2 linked regions of the Homo sapiens genome follow. Each later gene encodes a partner of the first gene's protein in a complex. Each region holds a gene or a part of one and is shown on either strand. Other genes may lie near its edges. A codon is read from its position in the direction of its gene.

What was found.
Region 2: the proteins of SUFU (region 1) and GLI1 are in contact, whole or in part, in a crystal structure (PDB 4KMD), measured with the Homo sapiens proteins. Residues at the interface, in NP_057253.2 of Homo sapiens: Leu144, Tyr147, Asn153, Thr154, Phe155, Gly158, Asp159, His160, Val161, Ser162, Trp163, His164, Gln212, Asn265, Leu266, Ser267, Gly268, Val269, Ser270, Ala271, Glu376, Leu380, Lys398; in NP_005260.1 of Homo sapiens: Gly119 (codon at 7,951), Ser120 (codon at 7,948), Tyr121 (codon at 7,945), Gly122 (codon at 7,942), His123 (codon at 7,939), Leu124 (codon at 7,936), Ser125 (codon at 7,933), Ile126 (codon at 7,930), Gly127 (codon at 7,927).

Annotation. Positions count from the first base shown.
Region 1 is NC_000010.11:102,505,990-102,516,813, reverse strand, and holds part of SUFU (suppressor of fused homolog), read right to left. Parts: intron 8,536-10,824; exon of another isoform or gene 7,908-8,535; intron 7,646-7,907; coding exon 7,511-7,645; intron 1-7,510. UniProt on the Homo sapiens protein: Negative regulator in the hedgehog/smoothened signaling pathway. Down-regulates GLI1-mediated transactivation of target genes. Down-regulates GLI2-mediated transactivation of target genes. Part of a corepressor complex that acts on DNA-bound GLI1.
Region 2 is NC_000012.12:57,461,961-57,472,784, reverse strand, and holds the end of GLI1 (zinc finger protein GLI1), read right to left. Parts: intron 10,043-10,824; exon of another isoform or gene 9,813-10,042; intron 9,121-9,812; 5' UTR 9,094-9,120; coding exon 8,994-9,093; intron 8,787-8,993; coding exon 8,694-8,786; intron 8,113-8,693; coding exon 7,917-8,112; intron 7,675-7,916; coding exon 7,530-7,674; intron 7,179-7,529; coding exon 7,089-7,178; intron 6,998-7,088; coding exon 6,860-6,997; intron 6,546-6,859; coding exon 6,396-6,545; intron 5,453-6,395; coding exon 5,288-5,452; intron 4,792-5,287; coding exon 4,561-4,791; intron 3,355-4,560; coding exon 3,087-3,354; intron 2,469-3,086; coding exon 724-2,468; 3' UTR 517-723; downstream 1-516. Other genes in the region: ARHGAP9 (rho GTPase-activating protein 9), read left to right, coding at 97-268. UniProt on the Homo sapiens protein: Acts as a transcriptional activator. Binds to the DNA consensus sequence 5'-GACCACCCA-3'. Regulates the transcription of specific genes during normal development.

The sequences.
Region 1 (10,824 bases):
AGTACAGAGGCTTACACCTGTAATCCCAGCACAAGGTCAAGAGATCGAGACCATCCTGGCCAACATGGTGAAACCTCATCTCTACTAAAAATACAAAAATTAGCTGGGCGTGTTGGCGGGCACCTGTAATCCCAGCTACTTGGGAGGCTGAAGCAGGACAATCGCTTGAACCCGGGAGGTGGAGGTTGCAGTGAGCCGAGATCGTGCCACTGCACTCCAGCCTGGCAACAGAGCGAGACTCTGTCTCAAAAAAAAGAAAATTGAGTTTAACTGGGCCAGCTGGACAAGTTTTTTCCCAACTGTTGAGGGACTCTCTGAATTGGAGAATTTGTAACCCTTACCCCATGAAGGAAGAAACAATCCATGCTGCAAATGAAATGCTTTATAAAGGATGAAGCCATGCACCCACAGACATCTGCTGGGAACCCCCACAATACAGGTCTTCCTGTAGCTACAAAAGAAAAGAAATCCCAGCACTTTGGGAGGCTGAGACGGGTAGATCACTTGAGGTCAGGAGTCTGAGACCAGCCTGGCCAACATAGTAAAACCCCATCTCTAATAAAAATAAAAAATTAGCCGGGCATGGTGGCGCACACCTATAAATAATCTCAGCAGAGTCGAGGTCGTGTCACTGCACTCCAGCCTCGGCAACAAAGGAAGACTCTATCTCAAAAAAAAAAAAAAAAAAGAAAAGAAAGAAAGAAAAAGAAAAGAAATTCTCCTCAACATTTAAAAATTCACAAATTCAGAGATTTGGGGCCTGAACTCCAACCCTAAGTGAAAGCTTTGGCCTCAGGAAGGGCTCTGGAGAGTCCCTGTTGGGCCCTGCCCCACACTGGGCCGTGACAAAGGACGCCTCACGCTTGCTTGGTGGTCCAGATCACCTGTTCTTAGCAGGGAACTCCACCATCTCATGCAAATAGTCATCCTGACACTGAACATCCCTGAGAGGAAAGGCAGAGGGACCAGGCTTCAGGGAGGTGTGCCCCCCAATGAGCCTGCAGAACACTTCTTTTAGCCTGCTAAACTTAGCCAGGGGTGGGTCCAGTGGCTTAGGGAGGCATTCTGGTTGCCAGCCTCATGAGAGCTCTAGGAGGAGGGCAAAGGTCCAACCAGAGGAGGGACCAAGCTCCCAGTACAGATGTGTATGGCGAAGAAAGGATCTCTCTTGGAAACGACATGTTAAAAAGTTCCTGCAGGCCAGGCGGGATGGCTCACACCTGTAATCCCAGCACTTTGGGAGGCTGAGGTGGGTGGATCACCTGAGGTCAGGAGTTCGAGACCAGCCCGGCCAACATGGTGAAACCCCGTCTCTACTAAAAATACAAGAATTAGCCAGGCATGGTGGCATGCGCCTGTAGTCCCAGCTACTTGGGAGGCTGAGGCAGGTGAATCACTTGAACCAGGGAGGTGGAGGTTGCAGTGAGTGAGATCACACCATTGCACTCCAGCCTGGGTGACAGAGCAAGACTCCGTCTCAAAAAAAAAAAAAAAAAAAGTTCCGGCAAACTAAGCTTTGAGGAGGAAAAATTAGCATTTCTCAACTGCAGGAGACGGAGGCCACACTAAACAACAAGTGGAAAAGTTAATCTGTATCCAGTGTTTTAATAAATAACTCATGCGGGTGCAGAGCCCAGCTAAGAAGAACACAAGGGAAAGGGAGGCTCTCCACCAACCGGGTGGAGGCAGCCCCAGAAAGCCGGTCAGCGGCAGTTCCAGACCCCACGGGGGGTGCAGAACTGCTCCAAACTCCACTGGACATGTGCGCCAAGAAGTCACATTTGTGAGACAGAGCCTAGATCACCCATGGTGGTGAGGCATGGGCATGACCCATGCTTTTGGGCCAACTCCACACAAAGGCTGTCTTTGGAACCAGCCCGACTTGTACAGCAGATGACCTGCCCTGGGAAAATCCCACCAGGGAAGTCTGCCTGAGTTCTCAAATGCACTCTCCAACTACCCAGCCTTCCAGCCTCGGTTAGGGCCCCATAGGCTCTGTCTAGCCAGAGCTGTTGGTGGTACCAGGGACAGCCAGAAATCCTCACAGAGTGATGCTGAAACCACTTCTACAGCCGCATAGATCCCCACATTCCAGTCCACAGCTAGCTGGCCATGAAGGGGAAGGCCAGAGCTGCAAGCTCCGACAGCACTTGGCAGCTGAGGCTCAGCTGTCTGACACCTCCCAAGTCCCAGGGAAGAGTCCCACAGGACAATTTCTCCACTCAGGTCAGTTGGGAGCAGCCTTGGGGTTCCTAGAAAAGCACTCTGTTCTCTCCTGTGGCTGCCCAGACCTGGAACTTGTTCCATCTCTCCAACTTCAGAAATGGCTTCTTAAGAATCTTGATCAAAACAAGTGCTCTCTTGCCTGGTTTCCTTTAGTGAATGTGAATAAGGAAAGAACTTGAATGAAAATGGCCATCCCAAGGCTTATCAAATCATCATACTCTTCATCCCTTTTAGGGTTACCAGGGTGGGCATCCCCTCCTGACCCTGAAGCATGCCTGCCAGGAGCAAGAAGAAATGCAGAGGACCCCTCGCTTCTGCCTGTCCCTACCCTCAACAGGCTGTGAGGAGAAGGAAAGATCATAATAGGAGGAGGTACACAGCAGGCATTTAATAAATGCCGTTGCCAGGAGCACTGGCTCTTGCCTGCAATTCCAGCACTTTGAGAGGCCAAGGCAGGAGGATTGCTTGAGTCCAGTAGTTCGAGACCAGCCTGGGCAACATAGCAAGACCTCGTGTCAACAATAAAAAAAAAAAAATTTGCCGGGTGTGGTGGTGCATGCCTGTGGTCCCAGCTACTTGGGAGGCTGAGGTAGGAGGATCGTTTGAGCCAGAGTGGTTGAGGCTGCAGTGAGCCGTGACCTCGCCACTGCCCTCCAGCCTAGGCAACAGAGCGAGACCATCTCAAAAATAAAAATAAAAATAAATTCATATCAGTTTAAAAAAGGAGAGGATAACTTAAAAGGAACATGAAGTAAATAATACTACAAGTGGCAACAATTATGAAAGTGGCACTAGAAGTTTTTGAAATACTGAGCTAGAAGGTTTTTCAAGTCCCTCTCACTCCTAAAAGCGTTGTTGGTACCGCGTCAGGCTGCAGATGGCATCCCAGGCCCCTTCCTACAGGGTTCCTCTCAAACGCTACCTCCTCACTGCAGCCTCTAGCAATTCAGCAGCCTCACTAGAAGTTACTCCCTCTGCTCTGCTCCCAGACCGTGTTTTACACCCATGGACTGTAGCATTTATTACTCAATATTATAACCATCTTTACATGTTTATCTCCCCTCTAGAACATGAGCTCCTTCAGACAAGAATTATGTCTTGCTATTTTATCCCCCAAGACATCTATTACGATGTTCTGTGTCTGATACAAAGTAGGTGCTTGATGAATGTGTGCTGAAAAAATGAATCAATGCTTCTGCTCCTTTTTTGCTGAAGAGAAGACACAGACAGTGGAAGAATTGTTGCCAGAGATCCATTTGCCATCATTCCAACCCAGCGCCCCTTAGCACTTAAGCTGGATGGCAGAACACTTGCCTTTCTGGCCTAGCTTTGAGTACTAATTTAAATGAGGATTCATTAAGTCATTTTAAAGAGGCCCCACCATTACGAAATGTGTGGAAAATCACATTTTTCTTCAAGAAACTTAACAGGATCAAAAAGAAACCAGTCATCCCAGTACAAAGCCAATTATAAAGGTACCTATTCGTGTTTTATTATTTTTCTTTCTTTATTTATTTTTTGAGATAGGGTCTCGCTCTGTTACCCAAACTGGAGCGCAGTAGTGCAATTATGGCTTACTGCAGCTTCAAACTCCCAGGCTCCAGTGATCCTCCCACCTCAGCCCCCCAAGCAGCTAGGGCTACGATGCACACCACCATGTCTGGCTAATTTCTGTATTTTCTGTAGAGATGGGGGAGGGTCTCACTATGTTCCCCAGGCTGGTGTCAAACTCCTGGGCTCAAGCGATCCTCCTGCCTTGACCTCCAAAGTGCTAGGACTATAGGCATGAGGCACCATGCGCAGCCTATAGAAGTACTTTTGACTTCTGCAACATAGACCAGAACTGGGTAAATATCTGAGAACATTCCTTCCACATTCTTCTAGTGCCAGGATGTAATACTGGAAAATACTAGGCTTGATTGGTGACATGAAAACCCAAATAGAGGTTTCACTCTTGTCATAAATGACATATGAATACAAAGTGCTGTACCATGTAGAAATGAAACACATGTAAGAGGATAGTATTAAACCAGAAAAAAACAATAAGAAAGGTCCTATTTCAAATTAAGAGGTTGCCCCTTCTGAAATATGAGGCTTGCTCAATCACATTCTTCATGTTATTTTGGGCCTTGGGCCTATACCTAGCAGGTAGACTGGAAGAATCCTTAAGCCACATAGGAAATGATATTCTTTTAACCAGAATAAATCTGTCAACAAAAAGGTACAGGCTAGCTGCACTAAATACTCTCTGCAGGTTCTTATTAAAAATATAAATTAAGGTCCAGCATAGTCTCTTTACTCCCCACATCTGTTTGCTATTCTATCTCCATTATTAATACTGTAATGCTGGGTCCCCATTCAGGCAAGATTAATTCCCTCTTCCCAAATCCTTCTGCTGACACTGCAATGAATCCATTTGGAAGGCTGTAAAGGCAGCTGCAGACATTGCTCCCAACACGTGACCAGCGAAGAGATGAAACCTGGGCCTCTGAGCTTAACAAGAGAGAAGAGGAAGTTGGGTTAGGCCTGTGTTCAGAGAGGTGGAATAGCCCAGTGGTTAAAAGCTCAAACTCTGAGGCTGAATACAGTGGTTCACGCCTGTAATCCCAACACTCTGGGAGGCCAAGGCAGGAAGATCGCTTCAGCCCAGGCATCTGAGACCAGCCTGGGCAACATAGTGAGACCTCAACTCTACAGAAAATTTGAAAAATTAGCCAGGTGTGGTGGTGCATGCCTGTAGTCCCAGCTCCTTGGCAGGTTAAGGTGGGATAATTGCTTGAGCCCAGGAGGTTGAGGCTGCAGTGAGCCATGACTGAGCCACTACACTCCTGCCTGGGTGACAGAGCGTGACCCTGTCTCAAAAAACAAAACAAAAAAGCTCAAACTTTGGACTCAAACAGCCCAATTCAATCCCAGCTCTTTTACCCCTAGATCTGTAACTTTAGCAATTCATTTAACCCCTCAAGAGACTCATTTTTCTTATCTATAAAATAGGAATAACGAGACCCTGATAAGATTGTAAAGCATTTAACACAATGACACGGAAGACAGTAAGTACTAAACAAAGGGAAAAAAGGCTATCATCATCTTCTTTATGATACCATCATCATCTCCAGAATTGGTCGCTATGCAAAGGCAGGACAGGACGAGTCCTGCTACTCTTTCAACCTGCCCAGGTTAAGCAGCCACCACCAAGATAGAAAAGACATGGTATAAGGGGCAAAAAAGTACAAAAGGCAAAAACCAGAAGAGGATATGACAATACAAATAAAATCAGCTCTTGATTAACCATGCTAATGAGGTTGAGGGAAGACTATTTATTTTATTTTTAATTGACAGAATACAAACATAGAAAGATTACATTTAAATTGAAGAAAAGAAACTCTCCATCAAAAGAATATAAATAAAAAAAACTTTGTTTATTTTCATTATTATTATTATTATTATTACTTTTTTTTTTTTTTTTGAGATGGAGTTTCACTCTTGTTGCCCAGGCTGGAGTACAATGGCACAATCTTGGCTCACTGCAACCTACTCCTCCCAGGTTCAAGCAATTATCCTGCCTCAGCCTCCCTAGTAGCTGGGATTACAGGCATGTGCCACCACGCCCGGCTAATTTTATTATTTTTAGTAGAGACAGGGTTTCTCCATGTTGGTCAGGCTTGTCTCAAACTCCCAACCTCAGGTGATCCGCCTGCCTCGACCTCCCAAAGTGCTGGGATTATAGGCGTGAGCCACCACACCCAGCCTAATTATTATTTTTTTAAGACACAGTTTCACTCTGTTGCCCAGGCTGGAGCACAGTGGCACGATCTCAGCTCACTGCAACCTCTGCCTCCCAGGTTCAAGTGATTCTCGTGCCTCAGCCTCCGGGGTAGTTGGGAGTACAGGCACATGCTACCATGCCTGGCTAATTTTTTGTATTTTTAGTAGAGACAAGGTTTCACCATGTTGGCCGGGCTGGTCTCGAACTCCTGACCTCAAGTGAGCCACCTGCCTCAGCCCCACAAAGTGCTGGGATTACAGGCATGAGCCACTGTGCCCAGCCAAAAAAAATCTTTTTAAAATATAGATGGTAGCAGGCCGGGCACAGTCGTCACGCCTGTAATCCCAGCACTTTGGGAGGCCGAGGCAGGCAGATCACGAGGTCAGGAGATCAAGACCATCCTGGCTAACATGGTGAAACCCCGTCTCTACTAAAAATACAAAAATTAGCTGGGCGTGGTGGTGGGTGCCTATAGTCCCAGGTACTCAGGAGGCTGAGACAGGAGAATGGCGTGAACCCGGCAGGTGGAGCTTGCAGTGAGCCAAGATCACCCCACTGCACTCCAGCCTGGGCAACAAAGCGAGACTCTGTTTCTAAAAAAAATAGTTGGTAGCTTATTGGAGTACATGATATAATTGCTCAAAAGGCAAGAGAATACAGTCATTAACAGTATGAACTCTGAGTTGGGCACAGTGGCTCACACCCATAATCCCGACACTTTGGGAAGCTGAGGTGGAAGAACTGCTTAAGCCCAGGAGTTTGAGACCAGCCTGGGCAACATGGTGAAACCCTGTCTCTACAAAAAAATTACAAAAATTAGCTGGGCATGGTGGTGCTTGCCTGTCGTCCCAGCTACTCGGGAGGCTGAGGTTGGAGGATCACCTGAGCCTAGGGAGGTCGAGGCTGCAGTGAACCATGATCATACCACTGCACTCTAGCCTGGATGACAGAGTGAGACCCTATCTCCAAAAAAAAGCATATAGGGCAACAAACGGAAGCAGACTAAGATAAAAAAATAAATAAATACAGGTTAAAAGGAAGTAGGTAAGATAGATAAAGGATAAGAGATGAACAGATTTGTGATAAAGCAAGTATAAAGTTAACAGTAGAATCTGGGTTGTGGGTATATGAGTGTTCACTATAAAATCCTTCCAACTTTGCTTTATGTTTAAAATGTTTCATAATAAGCTAGGGGAATAAAAGGAAGTAGACACAGAGGCATCAGCCCAAGTTCTGAGTCATAACCATGCTACCTTCCTGTCCTATGAGCCCAAACTCCAGGGCAAGCTTAGAAAAACCTGATTTGGGAATCCTGCTCATCAAGACTTTCCTGCACTAGATAAGCAGGAATCAGGTGTTAACGAGGACCACCTTGGCATGAGTAGATATAGTCAGAGGGCAGAAATGCAGAGGTTCCACGGAGAAGTACCATGCTCACAGCACTATGACATTGTCACCCCTGCTCAGGAAGACCTCAGGAATAAGGCTCTGGATAAAGAACAGGTGGCATATACTCACTCATGGACTCTGTTGTCACCATAGAGATCACTCAGGCCGAAGCTGATGTAGTGCCAGTGCTCGGGGATGTTAGCAGAAGGGCTCCCCACATTCCTGTACATGCTAACATAGTCCAAGGGGTCTGGGCCACCCAACCTGCAAAAAACAAAACACAGGGGTGTTAGTGTAAGCCTGGAAATCAGACAATGTCAAGCTAAGGCGCTCTACTTTGTAAACCTAAAGGACCCATCCTGGAGGAACCTGGGTGAAAGGTAACTAAACAGAGGCCACATCTCTCCAGAATGAGACTAAGGGATGGACAGCTAAGGCTGCCCAACTCTGCAAGCCCAAGAGGCTCCCTTCTCCTACCCCTGAAAGACTGGGCCTCTTTTAGAAATAAAACAGACTGGATGGTTACCCATTTTGCTTTCTCCTGTTTCAAATTACCGATCCCAAATGAGATTGGCAGGGATTGTCTCTCTTCTGTGGTGCCTGTATACATGCCAAGCTTCAAGGCAAGAGGTACATCAGTCAATCAATTGGCCTCTGTTGAAAGACCATCCCAAGCATCCCCAATGGGCATTGTTCCTGGAAGCAGAGGCTCTGCTCCACTCCAGCCTCTTAGACAGCTAATTCCTGAAAGACTATATTGTGCCCTATGTTAATTACAGTTTGTTCTAAACAAACCCAAAGCCTCTAGTCTGTGCTGACACCAGCCTGCACCCCATAGACCAAAGCTGGTCTCTTATCATTGCAAGTGACAAAGGCCAAACTTAGGCTTAACTTAGTTCTGCACAGAGAACTGCAGAAGGAGTCAAACTGCGCCCTGTGAGCATCTGCACCCAGAAAATGATCCCAGGAGAGACTGCCACATCAAAGGTAGAGCTGGGATGGTAAATGATTTGGGGCCTCTCAGGACCACATTAAATTTCCCCCACCATTCAACTGAGAAGGAGTTGCGGAAGAGATTCAGTTATTATCTCACTCTGAGGATTTAATACAATAAGAGTTCCCTTTAGTAATCAGTGCTTTTTAAAAAAAATCCTGTTTTGGCCGGGCACGGTGGCTCACACCTGTAATCTCTGCACTTTGGGAGGCCGAAGTGGGTGGATTACTTGAGGTCAGGAGTTTGAGACCAGCCTGGCCAACATGGTGAAACCCCATCTCTACTAAAGATACAAAAAATTAGCCAGGTGTGGTGGCAGGTGCCTGTAATCCCAGCTATTTGCTATTTGAGAGGCTGAGGCAGGAGAATCGCCTGGACAACAGAGGCAGAGGTTGCAGGGAGCCAAGATTGCGCCACTGCACTCCAGCCTGGGTGACAGAGTGAGACTTTGTCTAAAAAAAAAAAAAAAAAAAAAAATGGATAAGAAATTTTGGTAGCTAGAGAAATAGACCAAATAGAAACCATCAGTGGAAGGAAGTCTGCATTTAGCCCACAAACACGGCATTTGAGCTGCCTCAAACATCTGACCATTCCACAGACTGCAAAAGCTTCACCTGCCCCTGGGACATCGATGGAGTACACTTTGCAACTGGGATAGCATGCTGGTGGAAAGCTAACAACCAAATAAAAGACATGTTACAAGTGATCCCAGTCAATGGTGCCAGCACCAGGCAATTTAAACACTATTTAAAACCAGTTGGTCTTGTTTCGTCCTCTTTCACCAGGATATTATTTGCCTTTGTGGATAGAAATCCCTATTCTCTGTTAGGAAATGCTAAGTTATTTATAGAACTTTTAAGAAAGTTGCTACAAATAGCTTAGCATCTCAACAGAGGAAGAGGGACAACTCTCCATGTCTGCCTTAACTGATTTCAACAAATCACTTGACTAATTCTACAACAGGTTGGATTTAGAAAAGTTTGTGGGGCAAGGGAAGAAAGAAAAGAGTAGAGATCCCTGGAAAGACCCCATTAGAGCTACAGAACTCCAGAGCAGATGAGAGCCACTACAGGCCCCATACCTGCTCCAGTTTCCTGCTGCAAATTTCCAAACCTGCCCCGCTACAGCCTAGGTCCATCCTGCACCAAGCTGCAAAACTGTGTTTACCATTCTCTGCTCCATCTGCAGCATCCCTGCAGCCCTCTTTCTCACCAAGTCTCCCACAAGGTGTCACATCAAGGAGAGAAGCTTAACCTTCAAACTCCAACTGCAAGGAACTACCAAGAGTCAGATAAAATTAACCCTGTCCCCAAGCACAGAGTATTCTGTTTACTTACTACTCAGAGGCCAGATGAGTATGTGGAAAAAAATCGCATTTTACACTTAGCAAATGATGTTATCCAAGGTCCCAGGGCATCCCTCAACTTAATTCCTTGAACACCCAACTTCTCTCTGCAGGGCAGTTGCAGGACTGAAGTGGGCCATGAGTACAGGTTCTGCCTCTCTGCTTTGATCCTTGCTCACCAAAGTCTCAGCTTTCAGTTAGAATGTCCCCACTACTCAGGGATCACCAGTCACAGAGCCACACTGCTATTGCAAAATGAATCCCAAGCTACCCTGGGCCACAGACAGACCCAGACAGCCTGGGTCAGTCATCCTGCTAGAAACCTCGTGGGATCCCAAATGTGAGGAATATAAATGAATTTCAGGATCTTATTTTTGCAAACCCCTCCACATCTTAGAAAGTACCAGTCACTGATGGCTGGTCGCACTGGCTCACGCCTGTAATCCTAGCACTTTGGGAGGCCGAGGTGGGTTGATCACTTGAGGTCAGGAGTTCGAGACCAGCCTGGCCAACATGGTGAAACTCTGCCTCTACTAAAAATACAAAAATTAGCTGGGCAAGGTGGCGTGTGCCTGTAATATCAGCTACTTGGGAGGCTGAGGCACGAGAATCGCTTGAAACCGGGAGACAGAGGTTGCAGTAAGCCAAGATCGTGCCACTGCACTCCAGCCTGGGTGACAGAGCAAAACTCTGTCTCAAAAAAAAAAGAAAGTACCAGTCACTGTGCTGTTTCTCTTTATACTTTTCTGCATCTAGGAAGGGCTTTCACAAAGTGCTGTATAATCCCTTTTCTTCATTATCACATGTTGGCCCATCTCTGAAGATATGGCTGTTAACAAGCTTGCAGCAGGAAGGAAAAAAAAATTGCCCTTAGTCCTTTGCACATGCTTTCATACCTTTTACATACAATTCTATCCTTTATGGCTACTTGGGTGACATAAAAATAGTTGCCTGAATCTGTGTAGGGATTTCTCCTCACACTCAAATGAGGCCTGAACAAACAGCGTGGCAGAGCCAGGCCCACTTCTTTTTTTTTTTTTTTTTTTTTTTTTTTCAAATAACAGAGTTAGGGTCTGGCTACGCTCCCCACACTGGTCTCGAACT
Region 2 (10,824 bases), on another chromosome or scaffold:
GAACTCTTCCCTGCTCAGAACTTTGAAGGGTTAGTTAGATTGCTATGAAGTGGCAAGCTGCTGCCATATATCCCCTTCCTTGGCCTTTGCTTACAGGGTGATAGCACACTCAGATAAGAATCGCATGACACCCCACAACCTGGGAATTGTGTTTGGACCAACCCTGTTTCGGCCAGAGCAGGAGACATCTGACCCAGCAGCCCATGCTCTCTACCCAGGGCAGCTGGTCCAGCTGATGCTCACCAACTTCACCAGCCTCTTCCCCTGATGCAGGGAAGGAAGAAGAGAAAACATATTTCCGGTCATCTCTGGTGGTGAGAGGCTGGTGTTCTGTTTTGAGGATATCCCTTTAAATCTCCCAAATGACTGTCTCTATCTTCATGAGTGTGACTTGAGGTGTTGGGATGGGTGAGGGAGCTTCTCTAAAGAGGAAAGTGAGTGGATTAACCCCTGCTTCTCTTCTTGTTCCCTGTTATCATTCCTCCCCAACATAATAATACATAAAGTGGCATGGTATTTTTTCTGATGCAGTTCCTTTATTATCAGGAAACAGTGTCATTATCAAATTTCTCCTCAAAACGTATACAGACTATACATAGCCCCCAGCCCATACCTCCCATCCCTGGGGCATCTTGTGCATGGGACTGCAGCTCCCCCAATTTTTCTGGAAGGATAGAAACCCCTTAGGAAATGCGATCTGTGATGGATGAGATTCCCTACTCTTTAGGCACTAGAGTTGAGGAATTCTGTTTCCCCAGGTAGGGATCTCAGTAAGACACTCATGTTGCCCACAGCCATGTTGGGGGGCCCAGAGGGAGGTGGGGTATGTCCAGAGCTGCCCCGCTGATCATGGGAAGGAGGAGGACTCAGCCCCTGGGGCTCATCCAGAATAGCCACAAAGTCCAGCTGAGTGTTGTCAAGATCAAGAGAGTCCAGGGGGTTACATACCTGTCCTTCGGGAGGAGGGTACAAGGCAGGACCCCCTCCTAGCCTGCCCACCTCAGGATGACCACAGCTGGGGTTTGTGCCTCCCACTTTGAGAGGCCCATAGCAAGTGGGCAATGGGGGCAGAAGTCGAGGTGGTGCTGCTGCCCTATGTGAAGCCCTATTTGCCCCCACTACAAAATTTTCATGGCATGGTGAAGGGGTGGGATAGGAACCTGACTTGTGATTGGGCAAGTTGGGTCCAAAGCCAGGTCCATATGTGTTCACTGGAGCTTTAGCACGGCTTGGGCTAACCTGGGAACCCCCCAGAAACTTGGGACTCTGGTAGGAAGGTTCCTGGGCGGGGGCATCTTCCCTGCCCCCACCCTCCCACAGTAGCTCCTGTTGAGATTGAACATAATTACACACAAGCTGAGCCTTGAGCTGCCCTGTGGAATGGGTGGGGGAATCAAAGTCCAGGCAAGGCCTGGGTTCTGAAGGAAGATAATCAGGGGGTGGCTGGGTATAGGGGCCTGACTGGAGATATTGGGGAGGAGAGGGCTGGGGGTAATGGGAAAAGAGAGGCTGTGGATGTGGGGGCCCCTCACTGGGGTGGGCATTGAGGCAGGGTGCCAGTCCTGTGGAGTCAGACCCCACTGGGCACCCCTGTTCTGGCTTGACTTGCACTTGTCCATAATGTTCAAGTCGAGGACACTGGCTGTAGGTTCCACCTAGAGCCTTGGGGCCTGGGTACAGCCCAGAGTGGGAAGGGAACTCACCCCATGTTTCTTGGGTGGGGTCAGGATATGAGGCCTGCTGGGGACAGGGGTTGGGGCCATAGTTGGTGGGTGGACCAGGCCCAAGAGGCAGAGAGCCTGGACCCCTCGCTCCATAAGGCTCAGCTGCTGCCCCTTCAGGTCCCCCATATCCCAGAGTATCAGTAGGTGGGAAGTCCATATAGGGGTTCAGACCACTGCCCACCATGGAGGTCCCAACTTCTGGCTCTTCCTGTAGCCCTCTAGCATCCATGGCAGCATTCTCAGTGATGCTGGGGGGCTGTGGTGAGTAGACAGAGGTTGGGAGGTAAGGATCAAAGTTCTGTCCTCCCCCTGCCACAGTGGGTGGGGTATGGACACAGCCCAGGCTCTTGAACCTCTGGACTCTAGCTGGAGCAGGACGGTCAGCAGCCTGGGCTGGGTCACTGGCCCTCCGGGTGACCCCTGCATTGGGGTTGTATCCTGGATACTCGGCTCGGCTTCTCCAAGGAGGCATGGGAAGACCACCTATCCGATCCAGGCTGGATGCTGCAGTGGGCGAAGTACCACCCCCTCTGGCTGAAGCATATCTTGCCCGAAGCAGGTAGTGCTGGGCAGGCATAAGGCCAGGCAGGGAGGATGCTCCATTCTCTGGTGGGGAGCCAGGGGGGAAAGGAGAGGCCAGGGAGGAGCGGCGGCTGACAGTATAGGCAGAGCTGATGCTGCTGGAGCTGCTGCTGCGGCGTTCAAGAGAGACTGGGGGGCCCACGCGGCGGGACACAGTGGTACCTGCAAGTGATGGGGAGAAAAGGTAGGATGGTCAAGGAGCTTCCTAAATTTCACCCTGCCTCCTCCATGCAACAGCCTTGCCCTGGATTCTCAGGGGTAAGCTCGTTATCCCTAACCAGTCTGTTCTGTCTCCTACTTCTCCCATGCCTATTCTGTTTCTGGGTTACCAAGGATTCAGGGTTGCTATGAACAGTTGTGCAGGTTGTGTGCTGCACAATCCTAGGGAACAGCATTCGCATCATAGCCTTTGCATACTTGTTTGTTTGTTTGTTTTGTTTTGTTTTGTTTGAAACAGAGTTTCGCTCTTGTTGCTCAAGTTGGAGTGCAATGGCGCAATCTCAGCTCACTGCAACCTCTGCCTCCCAGGTTCAAGCAATTCTCCTGCTTCAGCTTCCTGAGTAGCTGGGATTACAGGTGCCCACCACCATGCCTGGCTAGCCTTTGCATGTTTGTACATCACAACTATTTTCTGATAAATGGAAAGTGTCTTGAGGAAGGACACCATTTTCTAATTATACAAAAGTGCTGTGTGACAGCCCTCAAGGGTGACTTCCTCCTCTCAACCTCAGGGCAGGTCCAGATCTCACCCCAGCCACACCTCCCACACCCAGGTCTCACCGGTGTGGGACAAGCTGGGCAGTTTGAGACCCCGGGTCCCTATTGGCCGGAGTTGATGTAGCTGGTCCAGCCTGAGGTTCTCAAGGCGGCGAAGAGTGGACAGACCAGTGCCAGCAATGCAAGGTCCCTCGTCCAAGCTGGAGAGGTCTTCAGTGCTGCCCCCTGCATTGCCAGTCATTTCCACACCACTGTCTGTATTGGCTGCACTCCCTGCCGGGGAGTGGTCACTGCTGCAGGATGACTGGGCCCCAGGGCTTGGCTGTGGCTTCTGTGGAGAAGATGAGGTCTGAGGGCAACACCCTTCCCCACAGCTCCTTCAACTTGATGAGTGGCTGAAGCCTGTGTCCCAGTGACTGCTGGGGTTCCAAGGAAGCTTGTAAGTGTAGAAAGGGCTAAGCAGGTAAGAGATGGGGGAGCAAACTGAATGTGAGACGTTTGATGAGAAGAACCTAGGCTGGAGCACGGACTGGCTGGACTCAAATTCTTGCTCTTAGTTCTATGACCTTGGGCTATTTCTCTATGCCTGAGTTTCTTCAACTGAAAATGGGAACAGTGAGTCCCTTTATCATGAAGTTGCTGTGAGGAGTACATGAAATTATACATGTAAAAGGCTTGGAACATATACTAAGTGCTATTTAAGAAAGAGTTGCCGGGTGCAGTGGCTCACGCCTGTAATCCCAGCACTTTGGGAGGCCGAGGTGGGCAGATCACGAGGTCAGGAGATCAAGACCACCCTGGTTAACACAGTGAAACCCCATGTCTACTAAAAATACAAAAAAATTAGCCCGGCGTGGTGGCAGGCGCCTGTAGTCCCAGCTACTCAGGAGGCTGAGGCAGAATGGCGTGAACCTGGGAGGCGGAGGTTGCAGTGAGCCGAGATCATGCCACTGCACTCCAGCCTGGGCAACAGAGCGAGACTCCGTCTGAAAAAAAAAGAAAGAGTTTGGGTTGGATGCATTGGCTCATCCCAGCACTGTGGGAAGCTGAGGTGGGAGGATCGCTCAAGGCCAGGAGTTTGAGACCAGCCTGGTCAACATAGCAAGACTCGATCTCTAAAAAGAAGAAAAATTAGCCAGGCATGATGGGGTGTGCCTGTAGTGATCACTTGAGCCCAGAAGTTTGAGGCTGCAGTGAGCTATGATTATGCCACTACACTCCAGCCTGGGCGACAGAGCAAGACTCTGTCAGAAAGAAAGAGAGAAAGAGAGAGAGAGAGAAAGAAAGAAAGGAAGAAAGGAAAGAAGGAAAGAAGGAAGGAAGGAGAGAGAGAAAGAGAGTGAGAGAGTGAGACAGAAAGATTCTAAAACCTCTAGATTTGGGGAAGCCCAAAGAGCAACACTAAGACAAGAGACAGGCAGACTGGTCACAGAAGAGTGACTTCTATAGGAGGGAATGGATGGGTTGGGAAGTAACTAGAAAGATGTCCACAGGGTGGGCTGGGGTATGGAGGTGAGGGTTGCCTGGGCTCTCTCACCATGGCACCCTCTGGCACAGTCAGTCTGCTTTCCTCCCTGATGGGACCTCCTTCCCGCTCCCTCTTGGGCTCCACTGTAGAAATGGATGGTGCCCGAGGCAGGGGGCCATCCCCACGGTGCCGTTTGGTCACATGGGCGTCAGGACCATGCACTGTCTTGACATGTTTTCGCAGCGAGCTAGGATCTGTATAGCGTTTGGTGCAGCCAGGGAGCTTACATACATACGGCTTCTGTTGAGTGGAGAGTGGAGACAGAAGGCAAACGGATCAAAGCGGAAGAATGCAGAAGAAATGGGAAAAAGTGGTGACAACACAGGGGGCAGGGGAGGAGCACACAGCACCAAAGGAAGTAAGGAGGATGGAGGCCTCCGGTGGGAGTCAAAGATGCAGAGATTAAGTGGAGGGTTAGGAAAACTGACAGCCTGGGAAAGATGAGGGGGTGAACCCAGGGCTGTGAGGTCCCATAAATCCAGGGGTTGGAGGGATCAGGGGTCTCCTCTAGATGGAATCTTTTAGGTTAGCCTTTTGGCTGGTTAGAGGTTAGAGGTAGGAGGAGGAGTGGTTAAGTGGAAATTCTGGGTTTCAGAAAAGCCTTTTCTGGGCGAATTATGTGGGGAGGGGGACTCACCTCTGTGGAGTGGGTGCTGGGCTAAGGGATTTCTTATGGGGGAATCTCCCTGGTAGGTGGCTTCTCAAGAGGGGAGGGTCGCTTAGTTAGGGCATTCACCTCATTGGAATGGGTCCGATTCTGGTGCTTGGCTCGGTCACTGGCATTGCTGAAGGCTTTACTGCAGCCCTCGTGCTCACACATGTATGGCTTCTCACCCGTGTGTGACCGCAGGTGCGTCTTCAGGTTTTCGAGGCGTGAGTATGACTTCCGGCACCCTTCAAACTGGGGGACATGCAGGGGTCAAAGGATAGTTCTCAGACAGAGGACATGGAGATGGAAGGAACCCTCAATCTCCAACAGGACACACATCAGAGAATATAACTCAAGATGAAAGGCACTGGGGCTTCGAGAGAATTCCCAAAACTAGGGGACAAGGGCAGGCAAGAACTTGGAGAAGGGAAGCAGTTGGAGGCACTCTCCCTTTGGGAATATAAAGATGCTAGAGCATCTTCTGACCAAGCCAGGGCAGATTTCTCTGCATGGGGATCTTAGGCTGTCCCAAGATGGGGTCATCTTGGGGGAACGGGCTGTTGTCCTTGATGCAGGGTTTATCCATTAGGCAGAGTAGTAGGCACAGTACTGAAGGCCAACAATACTTTAAGAGGCCCACGAACATGTTTTAATGTCTTTTTTAAAAAAAATTTTTTTTTTGAGGCGGAGTTTTGCTCTGTCGCCCAGGCTGGAGTGCAGTGGCGCCATCTCAGCTCACTGCAACCTCCACCTCCTTGGTTCAAGTGATTCTTCTGCCTCATCCTCCCAAGTAGCAGGGACTACAGGCGCCCATCACCACGCCCAGCTAATTTTTATATTTTTTAGTAGAGACAGGGTTTCACCAATATTGGCCAAGCTGGTCTCGAACTCCTGACCTTGTGATCTGCCTGGCTCAGCCTCCCAAAGTGCTGGGATTACAGGTGTGAGCCACCGTGCCTGGCCTGTTTTAATGTCTTTTAAAATCAAGGGGAAAAAAATGAGCTTTTAGGTCCAAGAGTGTTTTAATATATATCATCATATTCATCTTTATGCCAACACAGTCACACAAACATTATTTTTAATATTTGTTTATGGAAGAAAGGACTTATAAAAGCAAAAGTCTGCCTTGGGCCCTACCTTGAAGGAGAGCCCTGATTTAGGAAGAGACCCTGGACTTGGGACACTGGTGCCTCACCGTGCACTTGTGTGGCTTCTCGCCAGTGTGTCTGCGCATGTGAACCACCAGCATGTACTGGGCTTTGAAGGGCCTCAGCTCCCTGGAGCAGCCCCCCCAGTGGCACACGAACTCCTTCCGCTCCCCGTGGATGTGCTCGCTGTTGATGTGCTGAGGGAGAAGATACAAAGGCTCTCCAAGGCTCTCCCATGACCCTGAGGTCCAGAACAGACCTTCCCTCCACCCCCTGTTCCTCTTCCACGACTCCACCTCAAGGAGGAAGAGGCAGGAGCAATATCATATCTCACATCTCAGGTCTTCCAGCTCCCTAAGGCAAAGCTACAACTTCTGAGCTTCTGCCTACCCAACTGAGCATTCAACCTCAGTCTCCTCTGACCTCCTGCCCTCAGCCGGATTCCACCATGTCCCACTCAGAATCTCCTAAAGGTTCTGGCTAGCCATTCCTGTTACCCCCTGGGGCTCACGTGCACCAGCTGCTCTTGGGAGTCAAATTCCTGGCTGCAGCCATCCCAACGGCAGTCAGTTTCATACACAGATTCAGGCTCACGCTTCTCCTCTCTCTCGAGGTCCTCCCGCCCATCCAGCATCCCCAACAGGGGATCCTAGGGCAAGAGAGGCAATCTCAGGGTCACTTGGGTGACAGCTTTAGTTTTGCTCAGGTCCCAGAGGTAAAGCTCCTGCCCATCCCCTTACCTGTATGCCTGTGGAGTTGGGGCTGGACATATCACCTTCCAAGGGTTCCTCCCGGCACTTGCCAACCAGCATGTCCAGCTCAGACTTCAGCTTCCCCAGGGGAAGAGGTGACGGTGATGAGGGTGGAAGTAAGCAGAAGGAAGAGGAAACCAAGCCAGGTCTTCCTGCCCTAAGTGCCCCCACCCAAGCAGCTGGAACCTCCTGGGTTTGGAAGGGACTTCCTCCTCAGACTACACTGGTGAATGGGATGGGCAAAAGGTGGGATCCCATTTGGAAGCGTCTGACTCAACTGCAAGGAGTGAACCCCAGCACCCACACCTCTTTACTTTTCTAGTACTGAAAACTTATATCCCTTGTCCTTCCTTCACCTTTCCCCTACAAAATCCACCACCCACCCACCCTGAGCTGAGGGAAATCAGGTAGCAATATGGGGACTCTCACCTGGCAAGTTGGGAAGGGTCCCCGGGACTGAGGATGTGGGATCATCCCACCCCGGGCAGAGTCATGGGGACCACAAGGCTGGACCCCAAAGGAAGGCGAGGGCCCTTTTTGGTGATTCATCTGGGCTGGGAATCCCAGAGATGGGCTGAGGAGGAGAGGAGGCAGTTACTTAAGACAATTAGGAAGTCTCAGGAAGGATTGGGCTATTTGGAGGATTTCTGGAAGACTTGGGATTTGTAGTGGTTGAGGCAGTCCCAGGGAAGTACTGAGGAGAGTTGTCTTTGAAATGACAAGGATTCAAATAGGGTTAGGTAGTTTGAGGGCTTGAGACTTTTAATGGACTTGGGTAGGGGCTTTAGGGGCCTCTTGGCCCGGGGCTGACTGCACCTCATGGTGCCAATGGAGAGATGACCGTAGGAGCCTCCTGGAGATGTGCATCGCGAGTTGATGAAAGCTACGAGGGAGCTGGGTGAGGTGCGGATAACCGTCTGCAGGTCCAGGCTGGCATCCGACAGAGGTGAGATGGACAGTGCCCGCTTCTTGGTCAACTTGACTGCACTCCGGGGAGAAGAAAAGAGTGGGCCTGGGGCAGGAGACAGCGGAGACGGATATGGTAAAGGGGCATGTCTCTCCATGCACCTAACCTATGGGTCCTGACTTGGCAAAACCAATGATACTTGATTCTGCTTTGCCCTATTGATGCTATCTGTGACTTTTTTTTTTTTTTTTTGAGAGACACAGAGTCATGCTCTGTAACCCAGGCTGGAGTGCGTGGCACCATCTTGCCTCACTGCAACCTCTGCGTTCCCAGGTTCAAGTGATTCTCCTGCCTCAGCCTCCCCTGTAATCGGCACTACAGGTGCAAGCCACCACGCCCGGCTAATTTTTGTATTGTTAGTAGAGACAGGGTTTCACCATGTTGGCCTGGCTGGTCTTGAATTCCCGACCTCAAGCGATCTTCCTGCCACGGCTTCCCCACAAAGTGCTGGGATTACAGGCGTGAGCCACCGCGCCCGGCCCCATCTGTGACTTCTTGATGGTGCTCTGACGCCTCACATCTCCAAGCATCTCCTCCTCCAAGTGAGATCCCCTGCCCTCCCACTTTCTCTTTCAGAACAAGTCAGAGAGGGGCAGAAAGGGAAGAGGTGTTGCCTGAGCCCTCACCCTCGGTGCAGCTGTTGGTCTCTCTGGCTGGCCCATAACTGTGGGGGCCGGACATGAGGTTAGCTTGGTGGCAGAAGGGCGGGCCAGACAGTCCTAGAAAAAAGAGACAGCTGGAATGGGAATGGAGGATACATAAACCTCACCTTAAAACCCCAGACATGACCTGATCCCAGATTCCAGGTCCATATGACATGGGGCCTCAAATCCTCCTGTAGATAGGAAACTGGCATGGGGTGGGGGTGGGCCCAAGTGGGAGATCTGCCAAATCCTCAAGGCCCAGGGATTGGTATATACACTGACCTTCTGTCCCCACACTGGGGGCCCCCTGACTGGGGAGGGGCCGGAGACAGCAGGGCTCGCCATAGCTACTGATTGGTGGTGGGGTCATCGAGTTGAACATGGCGTCTCAGAGGAGGGTGTGGGGACACTGCAGAAAGGGAAGGTAGGTATAAAGGTGGAGGAAATAGAGACTGTCAGACAGCAGTCTCAGGCACAGAATCCTGGGCAGAACATCCCTGGTATCCCCCACCCCTCTAAGACATCTGCCACGGAATTCGAGTTGAAAAGAGCATCACTGAGCCGGGCACAGTGGCTCACGCCTGTAATTCCAACGCTTTGAGAGGCTGAGGCGGGAGGATCACCTGAGGTCAGTTGAAGACCAGCCTGGCCAACATGGTGAAACCCCCGTCTCTACAAAAAAACAAAAATTAGCCAGTCATGATGGCGGGTGCCTGTAATCCCAGCTACTCGGAAGGCTGAGGCAGAAGAATCGCTTGAACCTGGGAGGCGGAGGTTTCAGTGAGCCGAGATGGTGCCACTGCACTCCAGCCTGGGTGACAGAGCTAGACTCCGTCTCAAAACAAAAAAAGCATCACTCGCTGAGTGAGGGGAGGGGTAAGGGGAAATGATGTCCCAGAGAGGCAGAGGCAGTCTTGTAGTCTGTGTACTCTGGGGATCTTCTTGGGAACTGGGTGGGAGCTTTGCCTGGGTGGGAGCTTTGCCTGTGTGGTCTGTGTGTAGAAGGCATGTTTTGGACTAATTGTGCCTATATTAACTTCAAGTGATTTTAGTAACATGGACCCTCTAATTCTTCTTGCTGTAACCCTGGGCCGGCTTTGAGGGTGGGATGGGAGAACTCGTGTGATGGATCTGACTTCAAGCACTGGGCGGCTCTGCTAGAGCCCGTTCCCCCTTCCTTCTCGTGCCCCTCCCCAGGGACAGCCCGTGTACAATCTCTGCAGTGTCCAGCAGAGGGAGCCCTAGCCACAGTCCCGACACAGAGCCAGGTGGGGCCAGGAGGGAGCACAAGCCATCTGCCCTCTTAGACAGAAAACAGTGTGGAGGAGGAGGTAAGGTTCCTGAGGGGAGTCTTCTGGGTCTGTTGGGCACAAAGGTGAAAGCTGGTGTTATTCTGGGGTAGTTTAAATCAGGCCCACCTAATCTTTTTGGTCTCTGTTTTGGGGGAACAGGAAAGGAAGTATGAGGGGAGACTCTGAGAGAATGAAAAAAACAATGTGATCCTTATAAAAGCGTAGCGAGGAAGAAGGTGCTGCTGTCCGTTTTTCTTTTCAAACTCCAGTTTTGACTCCATCCCGGGTTTTCCAGTCTCCCGGGAATGAGGGTGGGGTGGGGCGGGATGGGGTGGAGAACCACCGGGAGCGGGCCGGGCCGGCCGGCGCGGTGGGTGATCCCGGGATGCTGGGATTTAGGGTGAGGGCGGGGTGAGATGGGGAGCGGAACCCGGACCCCGCGACCCAGCCCGGCCCGGCAGCCTGGGCTGTACCCTTTTCTAACTCCTCCTTTTCCAACCGAGGTGCGGATCCCGCATCCAAGACCTCCCAACTCGACCTTGGAACTAATGTTGGGGGGCGGGGGGCACAGCTGGTTGGCAGCTGGATGGGGGGACAATTCTCCCGCCTCCTTCCCTCTATGACTCACCCAGGGGAAGGAGGGAAGTTTGCAAATGATCCCCCAAACACTAGAGACTCCCCCAAACTTGCCTACTCAGTCATCTTTCTGCCCCACTGCCTAGCTGCCGAAGAGCCTCCAAGGAAATGGGGCTACACCCCTCCTCGCCCACGCGTTCCACAGCCCACCCATATCTCCCCTTCAGGCTAGTAAAAGGAAAATG